Linked DNA regions of Homo sapiens: region 1 is linked to region 2. Evidence: fine-mapped expression QTL. Tissue or cell type: whole blood. Region 2 holds a variant in brackets; the other region holds the start of a gene. All regions are shown on one strand. Distances are between the middles of the regions.

What was found. PIP is the estimated chance that this variant, and not a neighbour inherited with it, causes the effect.
Region 1: ENTREP3 starts here. The variant in region 2 is fine-mapped to the expression of ENTREP3 in whole blood (TOPMed, PIP above 0.99).

Annotation. Positions count from the first base shown.
Region 1 is chr1:155,254,048-155,256,547 of GRCh38, reverse strand. It overlaps ENTREP3 (endosomal transmembrane epsin interactor 3), which reads left to right and starts at 1,065. Exons shown (of 12, transcript NM_006589.3): 1 at 1,065-1,895; 2 at 2,092-2,148; 3 at 2,354-2,464. The coding sequence starts at 1,671. It overlaps SCAMP3 (secretory carrier membrane protein 3), which reads left to right. Exons shown (of 9, transcript NM_005698.4): 9 at 129-567. The coding sequence ends at 275.
Region 2 is chr1:155,866,520-155,869,363 of GRCh38, reverse strand. SYT11 (synaptotagmin 11) reads right to left here. Exons shown (of 4, transcript NM_152280.5): 2 at 573-1,399. Among named protein-coding and RNA genes, the nearest start is that of SYT11, 8.4 kb to the right of the region's middle. The variant C/T (reference allele first, on the strand shown) is at 1,732.

The DNA of each region.
Region 1 (2,500 bases), 610 kb after region 2:
GGGTGTGTGTTTCTGTGTGTGAGTGTGTGTGCTGGGCAGCAGGCTGCTGAGTGGTAGTGATGCTGTTAGGCTGGGGTGGGGAACCAGTGGCTGGAATGGGCGGTAATGTCTTTGTCCTCTACTTGCAGATCCACTCCTTATACCGCCGCACAGGTGCCAGCTTTCAGAAGGCCCAGCAAGAATTTGCTGCTGGTGTCTTCTCCAACCCTGCGGTGCGAACCGCAGCTGCCAATGCAGCCGCTGGGGCTGCTGAAAATGCCTTCCGGGCCCCGTGACCCCTGACTGGGATGCCCTGGCCCTGCTACTTGAGGGAGCTGACTTAGCTCCCGTCCCTAAGGTCTCTGGGACTTGGAGAGACATCACTAACTGATGGCTCCTCCGTAGTGCTCCCAATCCTATGGCCATGACTGCTGAACCTGACAGGCGTGTGGGGAGTTCACTGTGACCTAGTCCCCCCATCAGGCCACACTGCTGCCACCTCTCACACGCCCCAACCCAGCTTCCCTCTGCTGTGCCACGGCTGTTGCTTCGGTTATTTAAATAAAAAGAAAGTGGAACTGGAACTGACATCCCCGTTTCCTGAATCTTCATTGGGAATTAGGCCTTATGAAAGAGAAAGGAGAGTGTGGAGTGAGGTGGGAAGGTCGGACCCGGCTTTAGTGTAAACTGGGAGATATGAGGGGCGGGGCGGTGGAGCCCGAGTGGCTGGCGCAGGAAGGAGGTGGGAAGTCCACGGAAACGCGAAACCCGGAGACGCCAGGGAGCCCTGCTCCCCACCCCTCTCCATTAATGACGGGGAAGAGCCACCGCCTCTGCCGGGAACGCCAAGGAATACGCGGGCCTGGAGCCTGAAAAGCTGGATGGGGCTCAAGTGGAGGCCCAAAGGATCACTAGCAGCCTAGCCAGGGTCCAGAGCGAGGCAGGGACTGGAGGAGCGCTTATCCGACTGCCTCGCCCTGCCGCGGGATCCCCCAACCCCGACAGGGTCTCAGTCCCGAACTACAACTCCCGGGGTGCACCGCGCCGGCCCTCGCCGCCATGCCCCTCCTTCCCGCACCATCCCCATTCCCATCCCCCTTCTCTAGTCCCCGACCTGCGGCAGCCGGAGCTCGGGGAGCGGAGCGTGGTGGGGAGGGGAGCGGGACAGGCGACACAGGAGACAGCGGCGCCGCGGCCTCTCCCCACCAGGCGGCCCCGGATCCTACTGGACGCCCTGAGGGCACACCGACCGCGCCTCTAGAGTCACCCCACGCCGACCCCTCCCCTCTTCTCTAGACTTATTTCCATCCTTCCCGCTTTTACCCTCCCCACCCCTCCCTGGGCTCCAGGCCGCCGCCCCCTCCTCACTCCTGGACCGGCCCTTCTCGGTGCCCCTCTTCCCTAGGGAGATGCGATGAGCCGGTGCCCCCGCGTCCTCATCGTCGCCCCGGGCACGGTGCCCGTCCAGTGCCCGTGGTGGGGAGGGAGCACTCCGCGGTCCCTCCGTGACGCCCCTCGCTTGGCCCCCCCCACAGCTGGCGTCCCTCGGCCATGCCCCAGGGGACCCAGCCAGGGGGTGGGCTCTAGAGCGAGTGGGGTGGAGAGGAGAAAGGACGGGGCCTTGGGCGCCTCTGAGATGCTCCCAAGTGCCAGGGAGGGCCGAGCGAGGCGCAGGCAACCGGGCAGCAGGCATGATGCCCTCGCCTAGTGACTCCAGCCGCTCGCTGACCAGCCGGCCCAGCACCAGGGGCCTTACCCACCTCCGCCTCCACCGACCCTGGCTGCAGGCCCTGCTTACGCTGGGGCTGGTCCAAGTGCTCCTGGGCATCCTGGTGGTCACCTTCAGCATGGTGGCCTCTTCCGTCACCACCACCGAGAGCATCAAGAGGTCCTGCCCGTCTTGGGCTGGGTTCTCGGTGAGTTGGGTGCACAGTTGTTGGGTGGGGGAGGCTCCTCGGGCCCCACCCTCCACACCAGCTGCAAGTCCACATGCTTGCCTCTCCTCCCTCTCCTGGTCCTCTGCCTCCTTACAGGGCTGGGTGCATCCTGTGGTGAGGGGCTCACTCAGGAGCCTCCCCTGCCAGGCTGAGCCTGTGCCCACTCTGTCCCCAGCTGGCGTTCTCCGGGGTGGTTGGCATTGTGTCCTGGAAGCGGCCATTCACTCTAGTGGTAGGTGCCAGGGTCCAGTGCCCACTGGGAGGCAGGTGCCCAGCACGCAAGGGGAAGCCCATTTATGTCCTCAAGAAGGGAACTGGCTCCCCAGTTGGTGCCAGCCGGGTGGGCACGAAGTGTCTGTGAAGGAGGGGGACTCTGTCCGTGGCAGAGGAGTACTCATGAGGGTCCCAGCCCTGAGTCTGCACCCTGTTTTCCCCAGATCTCCTTCTTCTCCTTGCTTTCGGTGCTCTGTGTCATGCTTAGCATGGCTGGCTCTGTTCTCTCCTGTAAGAATGCTCAACTGGCCCGAGACTTCCAACAGTGCTCTCTGGTGAGATTTGAGGAGGGAGAGCTGGAAAGAACTGGC
Region 2 (2,844 bases):
GGGCGGTGGGGGTTGCAATGAGCTGAGATTGCGCCATTGCACTCCAGCCTGGGCGACAAGAGTGAAACTCTGTCTCAAAAAAAAAAAAAAAAAAAAAAAAGACATGTACATGGTATCATTTACACCCCTAGGTTAGGGTTGGGAAAGGGAAGCTGAGGGAAAAATTACTGAATTATTGTCATAGCTTCTCAGCTGTGAAAAATAAATTCACTGGAGGAAGATCACATCATTTTGGAGAGGAAATTAGCTCCCATATCCCTGATATAATGAAGGATCTACAAATGGTAGGCCAGCCTGTTCCAAGTAAGCTGGACAGCATCAGGATGCCAACCACTAAGTGAAATGGTGAAAGCTATTGAACCTTCTCTCACCAGGAAGTTGCTTCTTAGAGGAGACCTCATCTGCCAGGCCCTCTGTCTTACTCTGACCACTGCTTATCCTTGACATCCAAGAGCTTCCTCTCTACAGCCCTTCTTTGCCACCCAACCCACTCCCCTCCCACTTCCATTTATCCCCTGAGATATTTTCTCCCCCAACCTACCATTGCTCCCCAACACACACTTCCTACTCACCTGGATATTCCTTTTGATGATGTCCCTGGTCAGTTGTACCTTGCCTGTGCTGGGGTCCACCCCTGCCAGTGGCACCATGACCTCGCCAATGACATCATCCCGAGAGAAGCGGTCAAAGCTGAGGACAAGGAAGTGCAGCACCAGGTCCTGCAGCTGGCTGTAGGGGATGCCATAGAAGGTGAAGGTCTCGTCAAACACAGGGTCCAGGGTCTTCCGCAGCACTCTGGTCTTCACCCGATGCCGTTTGTCAGGAAGGATGGTCATTTTGATGTAGGGGTCAGATCCCTGGGTCTGGTCATCCATCACTGGCAGCCCATGGGCCTCCTGGATTGTCACCACCAGGGCTTTTTTCGGGAAGTTATAGTCCACTGAGAAGGTGAGGGATCCTAGCATGACATCCTCCTCTGGAGATGATGGAGAGGTGGTTTTGCTCTCCCCAGGGGTCAGGCTTGTAATAGGGCTCCTTAGTTCTTCCCCATAGTCCATTTTGATGGGTAATTGGTCTATACAAGATCCAGAGCTAGGCCCCCTGGGATCTTTGTCTCGGCTTAGCAGGCCAGCCTCTGCTGCGTCCACCAACAGGTTCCTACGTCCACCTTCCCTCCCAGGACCATCTTTGTCTCTCCGCACTTTGATGATTTTCTTCTTGTTGCTGAGGGTCTCTGGGTATATGCTGATGCCTTTGAGCATGTGAATAAACTTGTATGGTGGGTTCTTCTGCTTCTTCTCTGCCTGCTGGTGGCAGCATGACCAGACAAAGACGGTCACCGAGACACACACCACCAGCACAGAGGCCCCGATGAGGCCGGCCACCACCGGTGACACATCTGAAGGCGGAGATCAGAGATGTGTCAGGGCGGGTGGACTTCACCTCCTGTCTAGATCTCCCCTGCTCATTGCCACTGCTGGAGCCAAGCTAATCTTCAATCTAGCCTCTAAAGCAAAATGTGCTCATCTGGGCTTCAGAATTTTTCCCTTCTATTAGAGGCACCCTCTCCCAACCTCTCCAACCACTCCACGGCTTTTCCTCCCAGCCTTCTATAGAAAGCCTTCTCTGAAGCACCCCACTTGACTCTATGTTCTTTCCTAGACCTTCTCTCAGCACTTATAGACTTGGTTTGCTCATACTGATTTGTGCTTCACATAAAGCTGCTCTGTA[C/T]GTGTTCTAAGATCACCTTTTTACATGAGCACCTGTTCACTTCAACTGTTACACAAGATGTTTGGTTTCAGGATATTCCATAGCATCCAGAACAGGGCCTGCACTGACTGACTCGCTGTCAGGCTAGGGTGGAAGGGTGTGGAGATGAGTTTAGATGGTCTTGGTAGGGTGTTCAGGGTAGTAAAAATGGATGGGTGCCAAAAGGAAGAATTCTGGGTTTATGTACTTTTAAAATATGTTCCAAAATTTTAGCTCCCAGGTATATAAAATACAAGGCTGGGTGCAGTGGCTCACACCTGTAATCCCGGCACTTTGGGAGGCTGAGGCAGGTGGATCATTTGAGGTCAGGAGTTCAAGACCAGACTGACCAACATGGTGAAACCCCGTCTCTACTAAAAATATAAAAAATTAGCTGGGCGTGGTGGCATGTGCCTATAATCCCAGCTACTTGGGAGGCTGATGCAGGAGAATCGCTTGAACCTGGGAGGCAGAGGTTGCAGTGAGCTGAGATCGTGCCACTGCATTCCAGCCTGGGTGATGGAGCAAGACTTCGTCTCAAAAAAAAAAAGGTATTCCTCCAGGATGAATATATCCATTGTAGGCAAAAAAATAGGTGTGTGTATGTATGTATATATATATATGTGTGTGTGTGTGTGTGTGTGTGTATGTGTATATATGTATATGTGTGTGTATATATGTATATATGTGTGTGTGTATATATATGTATTTATGTATACATATATTATTCTAAATAGGAAGAAATAGAGACTTTCTCTTTTCATTATTATTACCTTAATAAATCCTTCACTGGAAGAAATAGGGGTTTTCTTCCCTATTAGTGGAAAATGTCAGATCTCTGCTCAAATGTCACCTTCTTAGGCCTTTCCTGACTCACCTATTTAAAAGTGCAATCTTCTCCATCCTCACCACCCACTCTTCCTAGCCTTGCTTAATTTTTTTCAACATGCCGTCATTCTCGCTCTCTGATACACACACCCCTACACATGTAAGAAAAAAATATATAAAATACATACACAAATATGTAAGAATAAACACCCACACGCATATTATTTTACAATTTATTATTTATCTTCACTAGAATATAAGTCTCAT